Regions from separate parts of the Homo sapiens genome. Here region 1 is reported to be linked to region 2. Evidence: microRNA targets listed by miRTarBase, many of them from high-throughput screens and not tested one by one. Region 2 holds a microRNA gene; the other region holds the end of a gene's coding sequence.

The links. The annotated mature microRNA hsa-miR-1178-3p reads UUGCUCACUGUUCUUCCCUAG and lies in region 2 at 2,193-2,213, shown strand. An mRNA with a match to its seed (bases 2 to 7 or 8) in the 3' UTR can be bound and repressed. Matches are read on the target gene's strand: a 7mer-m8 pairs with bases 2 to 8, a 7mer-A1 pairs with bases 2 to 7 and ends in A, and an 8mer does both.
Region 1: miRTarBase lists ZNF486 as a target of hsa-miR-1178-3p. The part of its 3' UTR that is shown has no 7-base or 8-base seed match.

What each region holds. Positions count from the first base shown.
Region 1 is chr19:20,196,845-20,202,229 of GRCh38, reverse strand. ZNF486 (zinc finger protein 486) reads right to left here. Exons shown (of 4, transcript NM_052852.4): 4 at 1,742-5,266. The coding sequence ends at 4,128. The region is part of intron 5 of LOC105372310 (a long non-coding RNA gene); the gene reads left to right. It also overlaps the pseudogene LOC100419841. Among named protein-coding and RNA genes, the nearest start is that of ZNF486, 32 kb to the right of the region's middle.
Region 2 is chr12:119,710,477-119,715,861 of GRCh38, reverse strand. It overlaps MIR1178 (microRNA 1178), which reads left to right and starts at 2,138; the gene lies at 2,138-2,228. It overlaps CIT (citron rho-interacting serine/threonine kinase), which reads left to right. Exons shown (of 48, transcript NM_001206999.2): 33 at 1,528-1,665; 34 at 2,214-2,394; 35 at 2,568-2,659; 36 at 3,167-3,271; 37 at 3,515-3,684; 38 at 5,242-5,322.

The DNA.
Region 1 (5,385 bases), not on the chromosome of region 2:
TTTGGCCGGGTGCAGTGGCTCACGCCTGTAATCCCAGCACTTTGGGAGGCCAAGGCGGGTGGATCATGAGGTCAGGAGATCAAGACCATCCTGGCTAACACGGCGAAACCCCGTCTCTACTAAAAATACAAAAAATTAGCTGGGCGTGGTGGCGGGCGCCTGTAGTCCCAGCTACTCGGAAGGCTGAGGCAGGAGAACAGCGTGAACCCGGGATGCGGAGCTTGCAGTGAGCCGAGATCGCACCACTGCACTCCACCCCACCCTGGGCAACAGAGAGAGACTCCGTGAAAGTTTTCTGCTGCTTTTGTTATCTACATAAACAAAGATATCACCTGCAAATAATGAACTAATTTCCAGTTTTATTCATTACAAATATTAACTTTTTTTCTGGCATATTTTTCCTTTATGCACCATTTTATACATTCACACACACATAGGACAATAAAAATATATCTAATTATTTAATTTTGGTTGAATTTTCATTAAAACAAGTGTTAACTATGATTATTTGTTTTCTGTTTGAAGAGGGCTTTTATTGTTGTACTCAAGAGCGTTGTTTCTGGAGACAAAGCTGCCTGTACTTTAATAGACAGATTCTGAAAAAAATTTGAAACATAAGCCATAAAATTTTATATTAATAAATTCAAGACAAAGCAGAAAGCATAGATTTGCTTTCAGCATTCTCAAGGAGCTTAGTTTTTTATTAGCCACCTTATTAAAATAATTTGTTTTGTTCCAATAATTGTTCTTTTCTTCTGAAAATATGTACAATCTCATGCTCACACAAACACACTCCATAAGTTTCTTACATCTAAGGTTTATCTTCAGAGTAATATGTGTATATTTAACTGATGTAAATTAACACTGAAAGTCTACATTTGCAGGCAAAGACCACATGTTCAAAGAAAACCATATAACAAACATTTATTAATAAGTTTTCAGTATATGTATGATTTCTATTTCTTTTTTTCTTGAGATTGAGTCTGTTGCCCAGGCTGGAGTGAAGTGGTGCAATCTCAGCTCAGTGCAACCTCCAGCTCCCAGTTACAAGTGAATCTCCTGCCTCAGCCTCCAAACATGCACCACAATGCCCAACTATATTTTGTATTTTTAGTAGACGAGGTTTCACCACGTTGGCCAGGCCAGTCTTGAACTCCTGACCTCAGGCAATCCACCTGCCTTGTCCTCCCAAAGTATTGGGATTACAGGCATGAGCCACTGGGCCTGGCTGTATTTTATTTATATTTCTGTATAATTTTTATTATGATCATAAAAATAACCCTGTAGTCAATAACAATTTATTGTACATTTTAAAATAACTAAAAGTATATAATTACACTGTTTTTAATACAAAGGATAAATGCTAGAGGTGATAGATACCTTATTTACCCTAATGTAGTTACTACATATTATAGGCCTGAATCAAAATATGCCATATAAAGCATAAATATATACATATACTATATACTCACAAATACTAATAATAAATTTCAGTAAGAAAAGAGAATAAAAATTTAACCTATGGGAACAATATTCTTAAATTCATTTGCTGTTTAAAGCCACTGGCAAAGTGATTACTAGAGACATTATTCCATTATGTACCAAATAGTATATTGCTACCATCTTTTACCTACACCTTTGAGTAAGGTGGGATAGGTTAGTGGCATAATAATGCTTCATTAAATGCACAATAGTCTTAACATGGTAAAAAACATAAAATTAAATTCACACATAATCTAACAATTTTTAAATGCACTGCATTTTATTACATAAAAGTACAATAAGTAAAATATACGAATTTAGTTTAATATACTTTTATCAATAATTATTTCTTGCACTATAATGTAGAAAAGTATTACTCTGACCTACCTTATACATTACTTCATATAGGTTAACTACAAAGAGCCTCTCCACTTATATTTTCATCATGCATCTTACATTTTAATGTCCTTACTTTTATAGAAAAGGTCATAAATGCCCAATTAATAAAAAACTATCTCTAATATCTCTGATGCAGCAAAAATTGATCACATGCTTTCACATGTGAATACAATAAGAATAAAATAACAGCATAAAGTAATTTGAAAGCTGTATTATGTCATTACCCACTTTTCAGAAAAATTTTTTTAAGGAAACAAATACACTTTTTTTTTTGAGATGGAGTCTTGCTCTGTTGCCCAGGCTGGACAATGGTGCAACCTCGGCTCACTGCAACCTCCACCTCCCAGGTTCAAGCAATTCCAATTCTCTGCCTCAGCCTCCCAAGCAGCTGGGATTATACGCGCCGGCCACCATGCATGGCTAATTTTTGTATTTTTAGTACAGACAGGGTTTCACCATCTTGGCCAAGATGGTCTTGAACTCCTGACCTCGTGATCCACCTGCCTTGGCCTCCCAAAGTGTTGGGATTACAGGCATGAGCCACCACACGCAGCTGGAACAAGTATACTTTTAATGTAATTACAATGCTTCCAAAAATCTGCTTTTAAAGTTATACACAAATAAATTTTTTTTTTTCCTGGAGACAGAGTTTCACTCTTATTGCCCAGGCTGGAGTGCAATGATCTCGACTCACCACAACCTCTGCCTCCAGGGTTCAAGCCTCCTGAGTAGCTGGGATTACAGGCATGTGCCACCATGCATGGCTAATTTTATATTTTCAGTAGAGACTGGGTTTCTCCGTTTTGGTCAGTCTGATCTCAAACTCCCGACATCAGGTGATCCTCCCACCTTGGCCTCCCAAAGTGCTGGGATTACAGGCATGAGCCACTGTGCCCAGCCACAAATAATTTATCTAAGAAGTGTTTCCAAACTCATTACATTTGCAGGAATCTTCTTCAATATACATTCCCTGATGTTGCACAAAGTTTGGCAACCGCTTTAGGGTTTCCTTCTAATACAAAACGCGGGCAATAAGATCTGTAATACAAGCAAAGGTACTACAAACCTCTTTATATTTGTAATGCTTGTCTTCAGAATCAATACTCTTCTTCACCTTAAAGGCTTATATTTTCTGAAAGATTTTTGTCACAGTAATTGCTCTTTTATGAACCTTCTTCTGTTGAGTAAGATGTGATGGACATTAATGGCTTTTCCATATTCTTTATATTTGTACAATTTTTCTCAAGGATAATAGCTTTCCTGTGAAATACGGTGTAAGCACTGATTAAAAGTTTTGCCACATTCTTCATACTTGTAGGTATTTTGGAAGTATGAATTACCTACAATAAAGTGTGGCAACCATATAAAGGCTTTGTCACATTTCATACATTTCTATGGTGTAGTATAATTTTTTTTATGCATAGAAAAGTTGGAGGTGTTGGGAAAAGCACTGTCACATCTTTCAGGTTTGTAAAGTTCCTCTTCACCATGAATTATCGCCATGTCTCTTAAGAATTAAGAGCTTATGGCTGGGAATTGAGGCTCATGCCTGTCATCCCAGCACTTTAGGAAGCCGAGGCGAGTGGATCACCTGAGGTCAGGAGTTTGAGACCAGCCTGGCAAATATGGCAAAAGCCCATCTCTACTAAAAATACAAAAATTAGCTGGGAATGGTGGTGGCACCTGTAATCCCAGCTACTTGGGAGGCTGAGGCAGGAGAATGGCTTGAACCCAGGAGGCAGAGGTCACAGTAAGCCAAGATCATGCCATTGCACTACAGCCCGGGTCACAAGAGTGAAACTGCATCTCAAAAAATAAATAAACAAATAAAAATAAAAGAATTGAGAACTTGTTACAGGCTTGCCACATTCTTCACACTTGTAGGGTTTCTGTCCAGTATGAATTATGTGTAATAAGGGTTGAGAACTTCCTTAAAAAGCTTTGTCAGCCAGGCACAGTGGCTCATGCCTGTAACCCCAACACTTTGGGAGGCCAAAGCAGGCAGACCACCTGAGGTTAGGAGATTGAGACCAGCCTGACCAACATGGAGAAACCCCATCTCTACTAAAAATACAAAATTAGCCAGGTGTGGTGGTGCAGCCCTGTAATCCTAGCTACTAAGGAGAGTTACTTGAACCCAGAAGGTGGAGGTTGTGGTGAGCCAAAATTATGCCATTGCACTCCAGCCTGGGAAACAACAGCAGAATTACCTCTCAAAAAAATAATAATAATAAAATAATCCTTTGTCACGTTCTTGGTTTCTGTCCAATATGAATTCTCTTATGTTTATTAAGGTCTGAGGACCAGTTAAAAGCTTTGCCACATTCTTTACATTTGTAAGGTTTCTCTCCAGTATGAGTTGTCTTATGTTCAGTTAGATTTGAGGATGTAGTATACGCTTTGCCACATTCTTCACATTTGTAGGGTTTCTCTCCAGTATGAGTTCTCCTATGTTTATGGAGGCCTGCAGACCATGTAAAGGCTTTGCCACATTCTTCACATTTGTATGGTTTCTCTCCAGTATGAATTATCTTATGCATAGTAAGGTGTGAGGAGCGGGTGAAGGCTTTGCCACATTCTTCACATTTGTAGGGTTTCTCTCCCGTATGAATCTTCTCATGTTTACTAAGGATCGAGGATGAAATAAAGGCTTTGCCACATTTATCACACGTGTACGGTTTCTCTCCAGTATGAATTTTCTTATGTGAAGAAAGAGTTGCAGGATGGTTAAAAGCTTTGTCACATTCTTTACATTTGTAGGGTTGCTCTCCAGTATGGATTATCTTATGTGTAGTAAGGGTATAGGGGTACATAAAGGCTTTGCCACATTCTTCACAAATGTAGGGTTTCTCTCCACTATGAATTTTCTTATGTGTAGTAAAGCTAGAGAAGTACTTAAAGACTTTGCCACATTCTTCACATTTGTAGGGTTTCTCTCTAGTATGAGTTATCTTATGTGTAGTAAGGTGTGAGGACCGGTTGAAGGCTTTGCCACATTCTTCACATTTGTATGGTTTCTCTCCAGTATCAATTTTTTTATGTGTAGTATGGGTTGAGGACTGGTTAAAAGCTTTGTCACCTTCTATATATTTCAAAGGTTTTTTTTCAGTATGTCTTCTTTTATGTCTCTTTGAATTTGAAAATTGATGAAAGACTTTCACATATTTACCACATTGAAATATTTTGCTCTGGGTAGTTGTCAAACATTGGTTAAGTCCATTATAACCTCTTTTGTGTAACTTACACTCATCCACACTTTCACAGCCTTTTTTAAAGTGTAAATTGCCATGTCCACATTTTTCAAATTTTCTCAGTATCACTTTTTGGTAAGAATCTTTTATGCTCTGCTCTGGCCAAAGGTCTTGGGCAAAATGAGAACACACAACTGAAAGAAACAATAAAAACACATTACTTCAATTGCTAGACTCAGATAAATATACTTTACAAATCTAACCTATAAAATTATACAAACTACATAAGCAAGATGACATAGCAAAATGCCAC
Region 2 (5,385 bases):
TCAATCTCCTACCAGTAACATGTTCTTAAAGCCTGATTCCTAATCACTGGATAATGGAGATTTTAAGTTGAGTCTTATAAATCTAGATGCATCTGTTAGTGTTAATACTTTCAAAATCTGTAACTAACCTGTTCTAATGGTTTTAACAGTTTCATTCAGATGTAATTTGCATACCGTACAGTTCGCTCATTAAAAATGTACAATTCAGTCTTTTTCAGTAAGTTTACAGGGTTGTGTAACCCTCATCACATTCTAATTTTTGAACAATTTTGACACCCCCCCACCCAAAAAATACTCCATACACATTATCAGTCCCCCGCCATTCTCCTTCCACTAATGTTCTTCTTAGCAACCACCAATCTACTTTCTGTCTCTGTCGATCTGCTCTCTTAGACATTTCATAAAGATGAATCATACTGCATGCGGCCTTTGTGTCTGGCTTCTTTCATGGAATGTAATGTTTTCAAGGTTCACCCATGTTGTAGCATGTATCAGAACTTCATTCCTTTCATGGCTGAATAATACTCCATTGTGTAGATGGCACATCTGATTATCCATTAATCCATTTTCATTAGTCCATTTTCACACTGCTGATAAAGACATGCCCAAGACTGGGTAATTTATAAAGAAAAAGAGGTGTAATAGACTCACAGTTCCATGTGGCTGGGGAGGCCTCACAATCATGGTGGAAGGCAAAAGGCATGTCTCATGTGGCGGTGACAAAAGAGAATAAGAACCAAGCGAGAGGGGTTTCCCCTTATAAAACTATCAGATCTTATTCACTACCACAAGAACAGTATGGGGGAAACCACCCGCATGATTCAGTTATCTCCCACCAAGTCCCTCCCAACACATGGGAATTATGGCAGCTGCAATTCAAGATGAGATTTGGGTGGGGACACAGCCAAACCATATCACCATTGGTGGACATTTGTGTTGTTTTCACTTTGTAGTTGTCATAAATTATGCTGCTGTGAACATTTATGTACAGATTTTTGTGGGTACATATGTTTTCAGTCCCCTTGGATATATAGCCAGGAGCGGAATTGCTGGGTTCTGGGGTAACTATGTTTAACCTTTTACAGAACTACCAGACTGAGTTCCAAAGTGGCTGCACCATTTTTACATTCTCACCAGGAATGTGTGAGGGTTCCAGTTTCTCCACATCCTCATCAACACTTATCTTCCTTTTTTTAGACTGTAGACATCCTAGTGGTTGTGAAGTGGTGTCTGCTTGGGGTTTTGATTCACATCTCTCTAACGACTGATAATGTTGAGCATCTTTTCATTTGCTCGTTGGCCATTTATCCTCTTCGGGGAGGTGTCTATTTAAATTCTTGGCCCATTTTAAAATTGGGTTGTCCTTTTATTATTGAGTTGTAAGAGTTCTTTATGTATTCTAGATATGAGTCCCTTATCAGAGATTTGATTTGCAAGTATTTTTTCCCTTTCTGTGGGTTGTCTTTTCACTTTCCTGATGGGATCATTTGCAGTACTCTAATGATTTTTTAAAACATTTTCCTCCAGAATTTAGTCGGCGTCTTAAGGAACGCATGCACCACAATATTCCTCACCGATTCAACGTAGGACTGAACATGCGAGCCACAAAGTGTGCTGTGTGTCTGGATACCGTGCACTTTGGACGCCAGGCATCCAAATGTCTCGGTAAGATCAGTAGTTGTGCATCTGTGCTGGGCACCTGTGCATCTCCAGCTTAAAAAGTCTATCAGGTGGAGGTGATTTTTTTCTAACTCATCATATAGTGCATTCATTTTCGAGCTTCTTACTTCAGTAGGAGGATGCTATTTTTCCCCTGTTGAAGCTGTGAGTTTATATATGTCTGCAGCTCATGACTCCAGCCTGCTGCTCAGAGTGCCTTAGGCTTTGCTAATTTCCAGCCCCTTTTTGTCAGGCTGGTCTCTCCCTACCTTTCCGCTGACTCCAACTGAAACATGCAAACGTGTTCTTTACACACCTGTTTGTGGGCGGTCTGGATTGAAGCCTGGAAAACTGGGTCAAGAGCACTTGGCACTTTTGTTTTCCCTTTCTGCAGGGGCCTGGCACCAGGGGAAGCTCAGGAGACTACCTGCAAGCCAGGGCCAGACTCTCTGGGCCCGGCTGGGGTAGAGAAGCCCAGGCGTTGGCTGGCAGAGGAAGGGAAGGGTCCAGGGTCAGCTGAGCATGCCCTCAGGTTGCTCACTGTTCTTCCCTAGAATGTCAGGTGATGTGTCACCCCAAGTGCTCCACGTGCTTGCCAGCCACCTGCGGCTTGCCTGCTGAATATGCCACACACTTCACCGAGGCCTTCTGCCGTGACAAAATGAACTCCCCAGGTCTCCAGACCAAGGAGCCCAGCAGCAGCTTGCACCTGGAAGGGTGGATGAAGGTGCCCAGGTACCATGTCAGGGTGGCTTGGGCTGGAGCAGGTGCTGGCACAAGCCACTCTGTCCCTGATGTTTTCTAGGGAAGTGTCTTTTCTAGGAACTCTGCCACCCCCTCATCCTATCCTCCAGCCGGATGTTTCTTCTGAGTTCAGACATTTTTCTTTTCCATCTTTCTTTCCCCAGGAATAACAAACGAGGACAGCAAGGCTGGGACAGGAAGTACATTGTCCTGGAGGGATCAAAAGTCCTCATTTATGACAATGAAGCCAGAGAAGGTAAATTAATAATTCAGGGGGAAGGTCATTGCACGTGGCTAACCCAGGTCTCCCCAGTGCTGGCGCGAAGGCTTTGTTTTTTGGACTGCCTTGCAAGCCTTCTACGCTTTTCCATTTTTGAAACTTACAAACCAAATGACTTCTCTAAAGGTTATTGGTGCGATACTCACATCTATAGGTCTCCCCCCTGAAGAACCCGCAGGGCGCTGCCCTGAAGATTCCACCTGCTAATACACCTTCCGAGAACTTCTGCCTCAGTCAACTAACCCATAAATCCGCATCGTCATCAGAAATTTGACTGTGCTACTCATCTGACACACTTTATTTTTTTTTATCTTCCCTCTCTGCCTTCTCTGCACACCTCTGTCCCTTCCTTGTTCTCGTGCGCCTCTCTTTACACACGTACCCTGTCTCTCTCTCCCTTGCTGTCTCTCTCGCTCTCTCTTCTCCCCTTGTTCTTGTTCCTGTTCTTTTGTTTTTCTTTCTGCCCTTCCTCTTTGCACCAAGCTGGACAGAGGCCGGTGGAAGAATTTGAGCTGTGCCTTCCCGACGGGGATGTATCTATTCATGGTGCCGTTGGTGCTTCCGAACTCGCAAATACAGCCAAAGCAGGTGAGGAGGAGCCGGAGGAGCCCCGCCCTGGAGGTGGGCCGGGCTTGGCCAATCAGCAGGGACAGAAGGGGTGGTACAGGGAAGATTGGCTCTGCAAAGGAGGCCCATCTTCCTCCGCTCCCCGCCTTGGCGGTAACTGGGATTTGCGTGGTTTGGTGGGCATCTTTGATCTCTCAGGCCCGTCCCTCCCAGTGGGAACGGGGGAAATCCACACCCAATCCTGTGCTCTCTGAAATCTCCTAGATGTCCCATACATACTGAAGATGGAATCTCACCCGCACACCACCTGCTGGCCCGGGAGAACCCTCTACTTGCTAGCTCCCAGCTTCCCTGACAAACAGCGCTGGGTCACCGCCTTAGAATCAGTTGTCGCAGGTGGGAGAGTTTCTAGGGAAAAAGCAGAAGCTGATGCTGTGAGTATGAAAGCGGGCCCTGGAGGTTGTCTTTGTAAAGGGGGCTGACTTGGTAACTGGTGTTAACGACGAGAATCCCATTGGCCATTTTGATTCCCCTCAGGCTCTCTCTCTGAGGGCTGATGGCTCTAGACTGTGTCATGGCCAGGAGTCTGGTGGTGATGAAGGCACAAGCACCAAGGTAGCTTGTGTGGCATCATGATCCATTTAGAATGTGGGAATCAGGGATGCGGTGGCTCATGCCTGTGGTCCCAGTGACCCAGGAGGCCAAGGCAGGAGGATCACTTGAGCCCAGGAGTTTGAAACCAGACTGGGCAAGATAGCAAGATCCCATCTCTTAAAAAAAGAGAAAGAAAGAAAGTTAGCCAGGTGTGGTGACATGCACCTGTAGTTCCAGCTAGTAGGGAGGCTGAGGCCGGCGGATTGCCCAGGAGTTTGAGGCTGCAGTGAGCTACGATTGTGCCACTGTACTCCAGCCTGGGCAACAGAGCGAGGCATGGACTGTAAAAGCAAAGGAAAAAGAATGGGGGAATCGGCATCAGTAGCCTACTCTGGTGGCATTGTAGACCTTGGTTGTGGTGATGCAGCAGCAAATGTACTTATAAGGAAATCCTCTCTCCTGTTTACTCAAATGAGTTTGTCTGGTTTGAAGGCTTGAGTTAGAAGCACTTTGGCCACGAAGCAGCACAATAGGCTGCCGGCAGCTGTGTCCCCTCCAGGAAGGCTTTTCATAAGCATCTCAGTTGTTTTTGCAGTATTTGCTCTTCCGTAGGCAGGTTTGGAGTCCTACTTATCCTTAAGCTGTTAGAAACGTAGGTGTGCTGTGATTGGCATCACCCCACCTAAAATGTTCCAGGATACAAACAGTGCTCATTGCTCATTGACGTTTGCTCCAGCGAAGACCAAACAGCTCTTTTCAGACTCTTCACTCCTAATAAACACTTTATGTGTTAGCAATTGGCAGATTCTTAACCACAAGCCTCCTGAAAAGGGCTTTACTCAGTGGTTAGACCTGTTTGGATGACTTGTTGGTCGTTTCACACGTGAGCTTTTACTGAAATCCTTGTTAATATGTGTACAATAGGCCCGCGACTGTGTTTCTTACGAGCTTCTGCCTGCCTGGGTTCAGGTAAAGAGATGCAGAGGCGTGCTGGCTCGCTGCTAACACGGCGCCTTTGCACTTCTGCTGCAGCCTTATGGGGGAAGGAGTCTTTCATGTGTCTTATTAACCCTGCGCAGGTGAAATCTCCTTAGCTTCAGCTTATTTCTTATTACAGAATAGCTTTCCATGTCTACTACCCTCCCTTATTTCTGCATCCCAGCCAAATTATAACTCAGATGCTAATTAACAGCTGCCCCAGAGATACCAATAGCACTCGCATTTTGCATTTGGAGCTCAGATCAAAATACGGGCTGAGCTAAGAGCATATGTGCGTTTCTGAGCATTTCCAGGAATAACTTGGCCTTAACCTTCTCTTGGTTTCTCTGGATGGTTTGGTCATAAACAGATCAGCCTCACGATGTCTTCTGTTTTTCTTTTCTTTCACCTATGAAAAGAAACTGCTTGGAAACTCCCTGCTGAAACTGGAAGGTGATGACCGTCTAGACATGAACTGCACGCTGCCCTTCAGTGACCAGGTAATGCTTGCATGGGCACGGCCAGCTGGTGTCTGGTTACAGCCACACCCCATCAAGAAAGAA